2 linked regions of the Homo sapiens genome follow. The protein of the gene in region 1 interacts with the protein of each later gene in a biochemical or structural test. Each region holds a gene or a part of one and is shown on either strand. Other genes may lie near its edges.

Region 1 (7,556 bases):
TTTTTTTTTAGATGGAGTCTCGCTCTGTTACCAGGCTGGAGTGCAGTGGCACCATCTCGGCTCACTGCAACCTCGGCCTCCTGGGTTCAAGCAATTCTGCCTCAGGAGGGAGAGGCAGGGACTAGGTGGGACTACAGGCACACGCCTGGCTAATTTTTTGGGGTGTTTTTTTTTTGTATTTTAGTAGAGACGGGGTTTCACCATGTTGCCCCAGGCTGGTCTCCAACTCCTGAGCTCAGGGAAGTCTGCCCGCCTCGGCCTCCCAAAGTGCTAGGATTACAGGTGTGAGCCACTGTGCCCGGCCGATAAATATATTTTTAAAACAGCAAACCAATCATTATGGGAAAGAATCGGTAATTTGGTTGACTTCTGCACGGTTATTTTATAGCTAAGTATTGTATTTATTTTTGTTTCCACATGGGAGAGAGGCACCAGCCACTTTTCACTGTTAGGGTTTCTTTTTCTTTTTTTTTTTTTTTTTTGAGATGGAGTCTCGCTCTGTCGCCCAGGCTGGAGTGCAGTGGCACAATCTTGGCTCACTGCAAGCTCCGCCTCCCGGGTTCACGCCATTCTCCTGCCTCAGCCTCCTGAGTAGCTGGGACTACAGGCGCCCGCCACCACGCCCGGCTAATTTTTTGTATTTTTAGTAGAGACGGGGTTTCACCATGTTAGCCAGGATGGTCTCAATCTCCTGACCTCGTGATCCACCCACCTTGGCCTCCCAAAGTGCTGGGATTACAGGCGTGAGCCAACTGTTCAGGATTTCTAAAGTTCCTAATACAACCCTGGTGGGGTCAGGGTGGGTGAGTGGGAGTGGGCAGGTGTTATACGCAAAGGCATGGTGCTTGTAAAGTCAACAAGTTTTTACAGCTAGAGTGCAAAATGTGAATGTCTTAGGGAGTCTAGTGAGAACAAGTTTGAAGAGATGGAGTGGCAGATAAAGCTTGAAGAGCTAAGTGGAGGAGGTCAGGCTTCATGAGGCAGGAAATTGAGAGCCATTGGTGGTTCTAGAACAGAGACCTGGTAATAAGGCTGTAGGTCAATTAACATGGTAGCCACAGCTGGGATAGATTGTGTTGGAATCGTGGGAGATGGTTGCATTCATCCAGTGGTTCTCAAATTCTCATGTGCCTCTACATCACCTGGAGAGCTTATTGAAATACAGATAATGCAGCTTCTGGCTGGGCACGGTGGCTCACGCCTGTAATCCCAGCACTTTGGGAGGCTGAGGTGGGCGGATCACTTGAGGTCAGGAGTTCCAGACCAGCCTATCCAACATGGTGAAACCCCATCTCTACTAAAAATACAAACATTTGACTGGGTGCAGTGCCTCACACCTGTAATCCCAGCACTTTGGGAGGCCGAGGCAGGCGGATCACCTGAGGTTGGGAGTTCCAGACCAGCCTGACCAACATGGAGAAACCCAGTCTTTACTAAAAATACAAAATTAGCCGGGCATGGTGGTGCATGCCTGTAATCCCAGCTACCCGGGAGGCTGAGGCAGGAAAGTCGCTTGAACCCGGGAGGCAGAGGTTGTGGTGAGCCGAGATCACACCACTGCACTCCAACCTGGGCAACAAGAGTGAAACTCTGTCTCAAAAAAAAAAAAAAAAATTAGCTGGGTGTGTTGGCACATGCCTGTAGTCCCAGCTACTTAGGAGGCCGAGGCAGGAGAATTGCTTGAACTTGGGAGGGCGGAGGTTGCAGTGAGCTGAGATCATGCCACTGTACTCCAGCCTGGGCAACAGAGCGAGACTCTGTCTCAAAAAAAAAAAATGCAGATGATGCAGCTTTTGATGAAGTCGTAGGCCTGGGGTGGGGGCCTAGGAATCTGCATTCATAACAAACTCCCAGGTGAAATGGATGGTACTGGTCAGGGACCATACTTTGAAAACTACTGCACTAATCCAACCATGAAACTTACATTTGGATCGAACTTTGGAAATGACAGAGAAAGGGCGATGATTTCAAAGGAAAGATAAATCAGCGTATGTTGCTTGATTAAATGTTGGAACTAACAGAAGGCAGGCAAAATTATAAGGTTCTCAAGCCCAAAGTAATGTCAGATAAGCTAGATAAGAGGGAAGTTGGAAAGGAAGTTGCCTTGGATGCAGGATGAGGAGGGGAGGATACAGAGTTCTGTTTTGGACATGATAGTGCTAACAATGATGCCCAGTGCACAGTATGATGACATGGGACTGAGACTTAGGAACGATCACAGGTTAGAAGCCAGATACCTCAGAATGTCCTACAGAGGGGCTGTGGTTGAAACCTAGGGAAGGGAGAAATTGTCCAATGGCTAAGAGCTGAGAGTCAACCAAGGATGGAACCCTGGGACAGGCCTCCAGTTGATGAAGTAGGACCAGTAAGTTGGACAGAGAAGCAGAAAGAGATTCTGGATGTTGTAATTACACAGGTGCTAAGGGAAGAGAAGTTTTCAAAGAAGTAGAAGTCACAAGGGTAGGTGCCTGGATACTTCTGGTTTCTTACCTCCTGTTGTGAATCTGACTGGCAAATTGCTACTCACCTTCTACACCCAGCTGAGCCATTGCCCCCATGAAGCCCTCCTAGACTTTCCACCTCTCCCTACTCAAGTGGAGTCATTCTCCGTCTGCTTTGCATCAGTCCTGCCCCTTGGGTAAAACCTCAATTGTAGTTGGTTGCTTTTGTTTATGCTTCTGAGGTCTTAACCTTGGTGAAGTGTGGAATGGGGAACACTCAGAATGCTGTTTTCAAATAGCTGTGCCAAGAAACTCAGCTCAGGTGAAGCTTGTCCCTTTGCACAAGGCCAAGTTAGAGGGGAAAATAGGGCCCAGGTGTGGATCATCTTGCTGCTCCCACCTCCACCTGCAGGCGTTTTTCTGCCCACTTCCCTGGGGGTAGGGAGGGAGGAAAGGCTATAAAAATGGGCAACCAACTCTTTATAGAGATTTGTTTCATGTTAGACTCTCCTGTCCAAGGAGCAGGGAAAGAATGTCTTAATTTTTTCCTGAAAGTAGCTTGTTACGAGTTAAATTGTGTACCCTGAAAATATATATGGTTAAGTTCTTAACCCCCGTGCCTCAGAATGTGACCTTATTAGTTAAGATTAGTTCAGGTGAGGTCGTAAGTAGGGTAGGATGGACCTTAATCCAACATGACCAGAGTCCCTATAAGAAAAGGAGAAGGAGACACATGGAGAATGCTATGTGACAACAGAGGCAGAGATAGGAGTGACACATCTAGAAACCAAGGAACACCAAGGACTGATGGCCACTGCCAGAAGCTAGAAGAGGCAAGGAAGGATTTTTCCCTAGAGCCTTTGGATAGAGTATGGCCCTGTCCACACCTTGATTTCAGACTTCTAGCCAACTGCTAGCCTCTAGGACTCGGCGACAACAAATTTCTGTTGTTTTAAGCCACCCAGTTTGTGGTGTTTCGTTATGGTATCCCTAGGAGGCTAATTTATACCTACTCATAGAAACTTAGGAAAATACATTGAAGGATAAACTAACCACCCATAATTCCACCAAGCAGGTAATCACTGTTCCCAGTGTTAGTGTCTATCTTTTGGGGTTTTGCCTGAAGACTGACAACTGTAGAGATATTTCTATCCTTGCAAAATTGAGCCCACCCTGTAGAGAGTATTCACATTTAAACAGAAGACAAGCTAGAACAGGTATTGAAAGAAAACAATTTTATTGTCTTATGGTGAATTTTTAGATATTGGGGCACCTCAGGAGGGGTGAGTTTTCTGGGGGAAAACCTGCCTGTTGAGACAGAATGGGTGATAATGTGAGGGCCCTTTGGAGAAGGCAGCTTTATATTGAGAGAGAGAGAGAGAGAGAGAAGAGAGAGGGAGACAGGAAAGAGAAGAGAGAGAAGAGAGAGAAGAAAGAGGAGAGGAGAGGCTGGATGATGGAACTGGAGAAAGAACTGCAGTGGACAGGCCTGACTTGCCCAAGAGTTGCCTCAGTGGGCCTTTCTGTTTGTTTCTGACTGTAAGCCTCTTGTTTCTTTTTCTCCTCTTTCTGTTTGTCCTGGGATCAAACCAAGGTCCACAATAATTGTGAATACAGCACCCAGATACTTTCCAGGTTCTGGCAGGTTGGTTCATGCCACTGAATCCACCCTTATTGTGTCCTGAAGACTGAAGGCAAATACTCCTGTCCCCTCAGAGCAACCCGACTTCTTTTTTGTCTCCTTGACTTTGCAAAACGTTTCTCAGGATGAGTAGATTTATGCTACCGCCCAGCATTCACTGGGGTTCTCAGAACATCAGTAATAGCTATTTTCAGCATGTAGCAATTAGTGCATCTTAAATCTCTTTTGAAATAATGGAAATGAAAAAAATGTTCCACAAATTACAATAAAAATGAAATGGCAGCCTCCCTAATGTGCTCCAGGTTTGATGAGGGTACAATTTAAAAGAAAGATAAGTTCTTGCTAATACACACACACATACACACAATCTATGCTCTCTGAATGTTAGAAAAATGTTAAACTAGGCCAGGCGCAGTGGCTCATGCCTATAATCCCAGCACTTTGGGAGGCTGAGGCGCATGGATCACTTGAGGTCAGGAGTTGGAGACCAGCCTGGCCAACATGGTGAAATCCTGTCTCTACTAAAGTTACAAAAATTAACTGAGTGTGATGGTGTGCACCTGTAGTCCCAGTTACTTGAGAGGCTGAGGCAGGAGAACCACTTGAACCCAGGAGGTGGAGGTTGCAGTGAGCCAAGATTGCCCCACTGTACTCCAGCCTGGGTGACAGAATGAGACTCCGTCTCAAAAAACCAACAGAACATTACACACAAAGAAAAATGTTAAATTATTAATTGTCACTACTGTAAATTTTCACATAATCACTCATTTGTTCTGATACCTGCTGAGGTCAAAGTCCTTGTATAAATTTGAGATGGATTTTAGTTTTACAGGGACTCACGTTTTTCTTCTGGGCAGGAGCATAGGCATACTGTGACAGGCTTAACAAACCCTGAACTGAAATGACTTTATGTTAGAAGGGGAAGCCTCATATCCTGCTGATGGGAACATACAGTAGGGCAGCCACTTTGGAAAACAGTCTCAAAATAAACATTGTGTTACCATATCATACAGCAATTCTTTTAGGTGCATATTCAGGAGAATTGAAAACATATATCTGCTCAAAAACTTGTATATGAATGTTTATAGCAGCATTATTCATAATAGGCAAGAAGTAGAAATGACACAAATTTTTATCAGCTGATGAATGAATACATAAAATGTGGCTTATCCATACAATGGAATTATTTGGCCAAAAAAAAAAAAAAAAGGAATGAAGTACTGATGCACGCTACAACATGGATGAAACTTTGAAACATGCTAAATAAAAGAAGCCAGTTGCAAAGTACCACATACTGTATGGTTTCATTTATATGAAATGTCCAGAATAGGCAAATCCATAGAGACAGAAAGTAGATCCATGGCTGCCAGGGGCTGAGGGAAGTAGAACTGTGGAGTGACTGCTAATGGGCACAGAGTTTCTTTTTGGGGTGATGAAAATGTTCTAAAATTGATTGTGGTGTTGGTTGCATAGCTCTGAATATACTGAAAACTGCTGAATTGTACACATTAAATGGGTGTATTGTATGGTATGTGAATTATATCTCAATACAGCTGCTTGCTAGCTAGCTAGCTAGAGATATTCACATTGTCAGCCCCTCACTACGTGTACCAGGACAACACTCTGTACTTCTCAAAGACACAAGCTGTCTCTGCTCTGTAAACACTACATTCTGCAGAGGTGCAAATTCAGATAGCCTTGTTATTCTCTTGGAGAAGTACGTACTTCTTTATTTGCCCCAAATAGAAAGAGTAATGGTCCCATGATGAATGAGCAGAAAGTAAGACCATTTGTGGCTACACTTGATAAATGCGTCATTTTTATGAAATCTGGACAGTTACAAATTAGGATGCAATCTACCTGCCTGGACTGTTTAGCCTGTCGACAATAATAATCTTAGGGAGCTCTAAGAGAGGTTGGGGAATGTGGCAGCTGTATTTCTTAGCAGCTGAGCACTTGGAAAAAAAAGTGGATTAATCATCATACATATGGTGATCCATCAAGATACATTTGCAAATCTATTGAAAACTGATTTTCAAAACCTTTCTCAATTTGTGGCTCTTTGTTCTCATTCAAGATTTTGTGTGAATGGTATTTGGCATTATCAGCACCAACAGGGTGGAATTAGTTGTCCTTTTAATTCTAATTTGGAGATCAATCTTTCCATGTCTGCAGTCCGAATTTTAGCTTCCAAGCCCTAGAATCAGCAGTATTATTCCAGAAATAATTAGGAGCCTCAGAGAATGCCGTGAGGACATTGAGTATCTATTAAGCGTGAGGTTTTGACGGTACGAAAAGCCATTTCACTTAAGATGTACCTTGTCTCAAGCACCTTTAGTGACCCCAGAAGGAAAGCATTGGATGGGCGGTATGTAGATGGGCTCATTTGTCTTCCTTTTATGTACTAAATGCTTAATGAATCCATCTGGAAGAATGGTAATTTGCTTACTAATACAGATTTTCCAGGGCACTGATGGCTTCAGGTGGCAGACAGACGGGCCTCATGTGTTAAGTACAAAGTGTTAAGCCAACATGTGTTAAATACAAAGGATACTTCATAGCCTTTCAGTTTGCAAGGTATAGATAGTTAAGTATCCTCCTTCTCCAGGTCTTCTCAGTTTTTAGGAGCTATTAGCTTCCGTGCAAGGCATAACTGGCACCAGACCTTTCTACCTTGTTTGTATGTAGTGTGTTTGGCGAAGCAGGTGGAGCTGGAGCTGAAGCAGGTTCAGGCACGCCTCCCTCACATTTCTACTGGAAATCAGATGAAGCTTGAGATGAGAAAAAAATCAGATCTATGCCTCATTCAGTTATATTCAATTAAGAGAGAGGAAAGCATTTAATGGGTTGGGATTGGGTTTTCAGGCTTCTTTCCTAAGAATTTGTTTTCCTTCTATGTGGTTGTAGAATAAATTTGCTATTTTATTTTATTTTTTTGAGACAGAGTCTCACTGTGTCACCCAGGCTGGAGTGCAGTGGCATGATCTCGGCTCACTGCAACCTCCGCCTCCCGGGTTCAACCGATTCTCCCGCCTCAGCCTCCCGACTAGCTGGGATTATAGGCGTGAGCCACCACACCCAGCTAATTTTTACATTTTTACTAGAGATGGTGTTTCACCATGTTGCAAGGCTGGTCTCGAACTCCTGACCTCAGGTGATCTGCCCACCTCGGCCTCTCAAAGTGCTGGGATTGCAGGTGTGAGCCACCACGCCTGGTGTAAATTTGCTATTTTAAATAGCAATGATGATGAGGTATAATTAAGACTCTCTGTTTAGTGTTAGGGCAGGATAATAATAGTAGCTAGTATGTGTTGAGCCATGGTAAGTACAGGTTGAGCATCCCGTCTCTGAAATCCTTGGGACCAGAAGTGTTTCCAGTTTTTTCAGATGTTGGAATATTTGCATATACATAATGACTTATCTTGTGGATGGTACTCAAGTCTAAACACGAAATGCATTTATGTTTTATATAC
Region 2 (8,524 bases), on another chromosome or scaffold:
TGTTGCATTCTTTATCTTCGCTCTGAAGCCGGGACTTTCTCTCAACTCTAAGATTCCTAACCCTTTGCCCTTTCTTCCATTGAGTCCTTCCTCGTTTTCCACTGAATGTACACTCATGTTCTTGAAATTCTACTGCAACTACATAACGGGGCATGGTAACTAATAGAATAGGGAAGAGACTGTTTACAAATATGTGGCTGAAGAGAGACGAAAGGTCTAAATTCCCAGTTAACAAAGCAAAAATAGAAGCCTGACAGAAATAGCTATGAAATAAGCCAGGATTTATTTAGATGCACCTCTGGGAGAAGATGGGCTTTAATGTGGTGTTCCCAGAGCCGCTTCCCTGTTTTCCATGCTCTTCTCCCCATCCGCCTCTCCCCCAAGCTTTGTTGTGAAAGAAAAGAAAACTTCACACTCCACACTGGGCTAAAGGGCAGTCTTACTCTGACAGGAATCAATGTGAATGGAAGGAAAGAAGCAAGGAGATAGGCGAGTAAGGTAACGAGGGAGGGGCAGGCAGGCAATCTTCTCAGGAACATCTATGTTAGATCTGGAGAAGGGGTAGAAGGGAGGGTAAACGGTGTAACTTCTTTAACCCTTAGAATTTAGGGCTCCTTGCATAGTCATCTAATTTCCTAAATCACTATGCACTTGATGGTGGACTCCATTGGTAGCGAAGAGGAAATATCAATACAAATTCCAGGCAGGAATACTTCCAACACAGAAAAACTCCTCAGGCCACCAACACTATTTTCTGCCCACCTTGAACAGTGGACGCCTCACTTCCTTCTTAATGCAATTTTTAATTCTTCAGACACACTCCTCATTCCGACTCTGATCAACTGTGCTCCTCTCCCTGTTCTCAGTATCAGCTGCTTCGTTTCGCCTTCTTTCCCCAACTTGCTATGACTCTTGCCCCAATACTGACTGCAGCCTCCCCATCCCACCCCGCATCATTGGTCAACTAATTCCATTAATCCAACTAATCCTCGCACTCACTGATTGCCCAGTATTAAACTCCTTCACCCTCTCGCACGAGTCATCATACTTGGTAACATCTTTATATTGACCCCTCAGTGACCCCCCACAATGACGACCTGCCATCCATTCTTTCCTCACATCACCCCTCCCTCCAGGCTGTCTTCTCTCAGCCGCAACCCATTCCTCAAGCTACCCCCTTCCTCCTGGACTCCAGCCCCACCCCTCCTGGCGCAGATCCCTTCCACCTTGATCCTCTCCCCTGTACGACTCCGCTCCTCCATCCTCCCACAGGACCCCCTCTTCCTCACGCAGACCCCCACATACCTATCTCCTCTCCCGCCGACCCCCTCCTCGGTACTCTCCTCGCACAGCTCCGGGTCACGAATACCGCCCTCGCATCCCGACTCCACTAGCCTTTGCCCGCCCCCGCCTTCGCCGCCTCACTCTCCCTACGCTGACACTAAGGCCCCTCCGCTGGGCCTCTTCCCAAAGCGGAGCCCACCCGGAACGAACCCCAGCCCTGGGAACCCACCAAGCCCACTCTACCGCGCCCACCCGGTCCGATACCGCCCCCAGCCCCAGCCACTCCCCCACCGCCCCCGGCCTTCACTCACCCGCCTCCCTCCGCTCGCGCAGCCGAACCTGCAGGCAGCGACACCTGACAGCGGCCCAATCAAAGCGCGACTTCTTTGCGGTTCCACCAATCAGCGAAGGGCGCGCACCGGTAACAGAGTCAGGCTGCGTTGGCCGGCGCTTCTGCGCGGAGGAGCGTGACCCCTAGTGGCTCTGGGAGGGAATGCAACTTGATGCTCCCTTCCTTTGATTTCTTAGTGTGTCGCCAAAGTCCAGAAGCGTGGTCTAGACAGAGACGTTTCATGAGACGACGGGGTGGGTGGGAAGCCTCATGCTGAGAAAGAGGAAGAGGCAGAGTTTGTGCCATTGCTGTTCCTTCAGAGCAAAAACCAGGTCTTCCCTTTGTCTTATGAGACAAAACAGGGTCTCATATATGTACAGATCCAATAAATAAAGGTTGAAAATTTTAACAGATGTAAAGAGGACTGATAGGGAGACTGGAGACAAAAAAGAGACAAGGAGAGAAGCAGATAAGAAAGTTAAGGGAAGGAACAGAGAGACATTTACAGAGGAGGCAAGAAAGTGGATGGACCTGGAACTCTAGACAAATTGATTCCTATCTCCACAGCCTGCTTTTTCTCTATGCTCCAGACAAAGCTGGATTTGAATCCTGGCCTTACCTCTAATAGCTGTGCAGCCTTGAGCGACTCACTTAATTTCTCTGAGCCTTTATTTTTCTCATCCATAAAAATAGGATTAAAAACCTAGGGCTGGGCTCGGTGGCTCACGCCTGTAATCCCAGCACTTTCGGAGGCCAAGTTAGGCGGATCACTAGGTCAGGAGGTCGAGATCATCCTGGCCAACATGGTGAAACCCCGTCTCTACTGAATATACAGAAATTAGCCGAGTGTGGTGGTGCGCACCTGTAATCCCAGCTACTCGGGAGGCTGAGGCAGGAGAATCGTTTGAACCCGGGAGGTGGAGACTGCAGTGAGCCGAAATGGCGCCACTGCACCCCAGCCTGGTGAGAAAGCCAGACTCCTTCTCAAAAAAAAAAAAAGAACCCAAAAAAACCCCCCAAAAACCTAATTAAGGCCAATTGTAGTGGCTCGCGCCTACAATCCCAGTACGTTGGGAGGCCGAGGCGGGCAGATCGCTGGAGTGCAAGGAGTTCAAGACCAGCCTGGTCAACATGATGAAACTCTGTCTCTACAAGAAATGCAAAAGCTAGCCAGGTGTGGTGGCGTATGCCTGTGCTCCCAGCTACTTAGGAGGCTGAGGCGGGAGGATCACTTGAGCCTGGGAGATGGAGTTTGCAGTGAGCCAAGATCACCTCACTACATTCCAACCTGGGTGACAGAGCGAGGCCCTGTCTCAAAAAACAACAACAACAAAACACCTCACTTAAAGGTACTGATAATATGAAAGCATTTTGTATTGTATATGTTATTGCTCTTATTATCCTCGCATCTTCACTTGGGTTTCCCTGGTCAAGACAGTTGTTCCCTTTTCCTTCTCTGCAATATTAGGGGTCTTGCCACTTTTCCAGTCGTGCCTCATTGTACTGACCCCACAAGGCCTCCTGAATGGACATAGAAATGATTCTAATGGCTTGAATAGATTATTCTAAGAGGAATAGATGCCTCCCTAGTTCATGCTCAGGCTCATACCCCCTCCACCACTCTAGCCCTTCAAACTAGCTATTACAGCATCTTCCAGGTATTTAACTCCCCTTACTATCCCCATGAAAATGTAGACTCTGTCCCCAGTAATCATTGGAACAATCCAATTCAACTCAATGAAATAATACATATAAAAGTTCCTTGTAATTGTAAAGTGCTTTAAAAATATTAAATACTATTGACAACAATAATTCTTATTAAATAAATGAAATACCATATAACAATACCATATATTGATTACTTCCATATGCTGCAAAATAATTTTTTAAATGAGCATTAATATATTATGTGCTTGTAAAAGGCACACAAGGGATAAGAAAAGTGCATAAGTACATGTGTTTTCTCAGTGGAATTATTGTTCACATTTGGGAAGCTACTCTCTAAACTTGGGTAATTTCTCTACTCCTCTGGCTGTCTTATTTCTCCTTCGGTAATTATCTCTTCCCACTTCCTATTCCTTAGTAACACCCTCTCAATCAAATAGCAACCCTACTGCTCTGGAAGATTATCTCCCTATTTATCTGGATAAATACACGCTATTCTAAGAAATTATATTTATTTACTCATGGCTACTTTTCAACCTAGGTAAAGAGGCCCCACAACACAGGTAACATTTTCCACACTACAGCTGCATAACTCTGTTCTCTAATAATTGATGTCTTACCAGAAGAAGAAGGGATGGACCCAAGAGAGAAGTGGACACTTCTAAGAATACCCACAAATGACAAAGGTAGAATAAAAGGACACAAGGAAGGCCTAAGGAGAATGAAGGGAATGAGAGTAATATGGGGGAATTTTCTATGTAAAGGGAATTCTCTTTCCCAAATACTCTCTGTTAAGATTTCCAAGTATCTGTCTTGTGGGTACACCAGGATAGCAGAGGGAAGGGACTAATGCCACGGTGCTACTCCACCTTAACTGACCCTCCACGCTGAAGCCCCTCATCTCTATTTCAACTCTAGCATTCATTCTCCTTGCTACCAGGACAAAGGTCAAATCATACCTGGAGCTGGGAAACAAAGCCCTCTCAAATCTGAATATGTGTTTCACGAGGAGAGAGAGAGCAGCAGAGGGGACCACGAGGAAGGCAGAGATTCCCTGACCACCTCATGCCTTTGTACACCACTCGCCTTTACTCTCTGGATTAAACAGCATTAGGGAGACAAGAGAGGAAACACATGTGGTGTCTGGAGACCTGTGCCTGCCTGTTCCAGTCCCACACCCAGTCATCTCACCACACCCTTCACCTCACTTTACCTTCTCCTCCAGCACAGGAACTAGGAACTACGGAGAGAGAAGCCAAGGGAGAGGAGGAGGAGGAAACTAACGATTCCCTGCCCACCCCCACACCCAGCACCACCAACAGGTGGGCAAGCTTGCCGAGAAAACGCAGAGGGCATCCTGTGAGCAGCAAACACATCTGAGCCTGGAAAAGACGCAGAGAAGTAAAAGATCAAAGGTGAGGTAGGGGACGTGGAGGAAAGTGGGAGAGACAAAAGGAAAACAAAAAGTGGGGGATCATGAGAAGCAGAGGCAGGAAATAACAGGGCTTCAGACTTGGGTGCAGAATGGAGGTGGAGGACACAGCACAGATGGCATAAGAATTAATATTTCCTTGGTTCCTCCCAGGGAGTCCTTTCTCAACTTTGTAAGGCGTGCACAGAGGTGGCAAGGAAGCACCTTGCTCCTCTTCCTGGTTCTAAGGAAAAGGTGACCTTGAGCCAGTGGGTGTCTTTCCCAGTGCCTGCCTCTAACCCTGTGCTTTCTCCATATCCTCCTCTGGTATCTGTGTTTATTCCGCGGTTTCCCCGCGGCTGCCCCCGGGAGACCGAAGAGGTGGCTGGGGCAGGCCGAAAGCAGAGGAAAGGTTGGGCAGTGTCACCCTTGCACACCCACAGGGTAGACGGATCGAGTTTCAGCTTAAACCGAGGGGTGTGGGGGAAGGGTGTTGGGTTCAGCTAGTCCACGTGGGTGCTGTCCTCCACTTGGTGCTGAAATCTGGGCGGCCACATCCCCGGGGCGGGAGGGGGCTACATCCCCGGCTTTAGACGCGCGAGTCTCAGGTCCCGCTAATTACCTGGCGGGTGCTGCCCACCCCTGCCCTCGCGCACCTAGCGCGGTGGCAGGCGGGAAGGCGGGGCCTGGGGGAGCCCCACCCCTGGAGACTGCGGCTGGGGCCTCCCTCTCCTCCGCCCGCCCGCCTGCCACTAGCTCATTGCGCCTCTCCTGCAGTCTGATTGGCACCGGCTCCCATTCCGGCTCCAGCCTCCAATCCGACCCCCATTTCGGCTGCAGCCTCGGACCTAGCTCCGGCCCTCGGTCTATCCGGTTGCATCCTCCCTCCCTGTTCCGGATCTTATCTTGCGCCAGCGCCTACTCCAGGATCCCGTAGCCAGACCTCAAGCCATGGCTGGTCCCTTCTCCCGTCTGCTGTCCGCCCGCCCGGGACTCAGGCTCCTGGCTTTGGCCGGAGCGGGGTCTCTAGCCGCTGGGTTTCTGCTCCGACCGGAACCTGTACGAGCTGCCAGTGAACGACGGAGGCTGTATCCCCCGAGGTAACAGTGCCTGAGGCGCGGGAGGAGGCGGGGGCAGGAGGTGATGGGAACGAAGGTGCGGGTAGAAGTGAGAATCCGGGCAACAGAGAAGGGCTATAATCACGAAGGCCCTGGAGCTGGAGGGCTGTGCAGTCTGCAGACCTCAGTGGGGTGGGGGTGGGGGCCAAAACCATAAAGCAAGAACATTCCTGGGGACCTGCCAAGACCAGCTCTGGCCCTACGAGTTCTAGCTGCACTGGCTGCCCAAATCCCTAATTGTAAAGCCAGGAACTATCCTTTTCGCTCCCCTCCATCTCCTTCCCTCATTTCCTCAATTCCTCTCCTTAGGCTTTTCCCCTCCTCCATCCGTAGTGTTGTGTCATGGGAGGAAAGAACTGAGCAGATCTGAAGAAACTGAGCTGGCCAGCCAGAGGCAACTAGAACTATTAGGAAAGCATAGACTCTGAAAGTCCCTAAAGAGATTACCAAGGTTTACCCTCTTTCTAATTCCCCCTCCTCCCGCGGAGCAAAGCCAGACATGGCCAACTGGACAGCTCCCAGGTAACTGCACTAGGTCTAGGCGTCTGTGCCCTCCCTCCATGGTTACTGGGTACCCCCTCCCCAGCGCTGAGTACCCAGACCTCCGAAAGCACAACAACTGCATGGCCAGTCACCTGACCCCAGCAGTCTATGCACGGCTCTGCGACAAGACCACACCCACTGGTTGGACGCTAGATCAGTGTATCCAGACTGGCGTGGACAACCCTGGCCACCCCTTCATCAAGACTGTGGGCATGGTGGCTGGAGATGAGGAGACCTATGAGGTAGGGGGTCCCCAGAGTCTCCCTGATGATCCAATTCATCTTCCCAGTAATCCCAGCTCCTTTCCCCTAAAGACCTCTCACTTTCCCCCAAGACTCTGAGCCCCCCATACTTAAGTTTTCTGAACCAGTGAAATCAATGCACAATTGAAGTCTGGGGAGGGATTCCCTCTCCTTAACCATCTCTCCCTCTTAACTCCCCTTAGGTATTTGCTGACCTGTTTGACCCTGTGATCCAAGAGCGACACAATGGATATGACCCCCGGACAATGAAGCACACCACGGATCTAGATGCCAGTAAAGTGAGTTCAAATATCCCACTTCTGATTTGCATTGCCTGTGTACAACACTCTGTATCTCCAACCCCTTCACCTTATTTCCTGACTCATGGTCATTATACAGCTGAGCTTTTAATCTTAATGTAAGGAAAGAATCATATCTTAAGGGGCAGCATATATGGAGATGGAAGGATAGATAAGAATGACCATGACCCAAGGTGGGTGGTTTGGGGAAAGGTCTGCAATGCCCCCTTCAATTCCAGTGCTTTCCCAAAGGGCCTCTTCTTCCAATGCATGCAGGAAGAATGCACAAAGAGTCCTCTAATGCCTAAGGAAGGTCTCTCCTTTCCCAGGGGCCCTCAGTTCCCACCGTGTTTCTGTGACTTACATTCATTTCCCTTATCTCCCAGATCCGTTCTGGCTACTTTGATGAGAGGTATGTATTGTCCTCTAGAGTCAGAACTGGCCGAAGCATCCGAGGACTCAGTCTGCCTCCAGCTTGCACTCGAGCAGAGCGACGAGAGGTGGAACGTGTTGTGGTGGATGCACTGAGTGGCCTGAAGGGTGACCTGGCTGGACGTTACTATAGGCTCAGTGAGATGACAGAGGCTGAACAGCAGCAGCTTATTGATGTGAGGGCCTTAAGAGGGTGCTGGTTGGTGGGAGCAGATGGGGAAGGCTGGGCCAGATGAGACATGGGCTCTGAAAGGCCCAGGGGCCACCATGAAGATTCTTAACCCAAGTCCCGTTACTCTTCCCAGGACCACTTTCTGTTTGATAAGCCTGTGTCCCCGTTGCTGACTGCAGCAGGAATGGCTCGAGACTGGCCAGATGCTCGTGGAATTTGGTATGAAGCTGCTCATTACCTCTTTTGTCTTCATGCCCTCATAAATGCTTTTTTTCCCTCTATCTCTCCCAATTCTTGCCTTGCCTCTTGATCACTGTCCCTCTCCGGCCCTCAGGCACAACAATGAGAAGAGCTTCCTGATCTGGGTGAATGAGGAGGATCATACACGGGTGATCTCCATGGAGAAGGGTGGTAACATGAAGAGAGTGTTTGAAAGATTCTGCCGAGGCCTCAAAGAGGTTAGAGAAGATTGTGTAGGGGAGCTAGGTGGGAGGACATAAGGAAAACCAAAGAGTAGCATAAATAGATTATGTAATTTATCAACCAACCCAAGACATGTCTGATGGTAAAAAGGACTACCTAGGACTCACTCTAGGACTAAAGGTATAAACCAGCTGGGACCATACTGGGAAAACCAGGACATGTGGTCACACTAAGATTAGGAAAAGAGTGTCAGGAACCTTAGAAAGTGAAGAAGGCAGGTAATGCAAAGAAGGAATAACTGAGATGGCACGTCAGTGCCTGGGATGTGTGCAGTGGGATGGTGAGGTGTGCAGATAAGGAAAACATTCGAGCTTAGATTGATGTTGGCGGGGAGAGGTTGCTGTGTTCATGACTCTAATATAACCACCCAGTTCTGAGACAAGGTAGGCCTTGACTCTGGATTCTATCATTCTTGTTAAAGTATCGGGTCTAGGCTTTAAGTTGAGAGTTCAGAGGGAGACTGGGGAAGGTGGAGGATAGAATGGTTCGAGTTCTAGAATATGTGGCTCTAGATGAGAGGTTGAACTGAATCATCAATCCTACA

Evidence for each region. Proteins that work in one complex are often made in the same cells at the same time.
Region 2: of the proteins of ASB9 (region 1) and CKMT1A, one has a biochemical effect on the other in vitro, tested with the Homo sapiens proteins (one study listed by BioGRID).

Annotation. Positions count from the first base shown.
Region 1 is NC_000023.11:15,259,862-15,267,417, reverse strand, and holds part of ASB9 (ankyrin repeat and SOCS box protein 9), read left to right. Parts: intron 1-7,556. UniProt on the Homo sapiens protein: Substrate-recognition component of a cullin-5-RING E3 ubiquitin-protein ligase complex (ECS complex, also named CRL5 complex), which mediates the ubiquitination and subsequent proteasomal degradation of target proteins.
Region 2 is NC_000015.10:43,688,409-43,696,932, forward strand, and holds the start of CKMT1A (creatine kinase U-type, mitochondrial isoform 1 precursor), read left to right. Parts: upstream 1-5,450; 5' UTR 5,451-5,642; coding exon 5,643-5,791; intron 5,792-6,118; exon of another isoform or gene 6,119-6,302; coding exon of another isoform or gene 6,303-6,395; coding exon 6,396-6,594; intron 6,595-6,797; coding exon 6,798-6,893; intron 6,894-7,279; coding exon 7,280-7,501; exon of another isoform or gene 7,502-7,502; intron 7,503-7,630; coding exon 7,631-7,716; exon of another isoform or gene 7,717-7,720; intron 7,721-7,831; coding exon 7,832-7,955; intron 7,956-8,524. UniProt on the Homo sapiens protein: Reversibly catalyzes the transfer of phosphate between ATP and various phosphogens (e.g. creatine phosphate).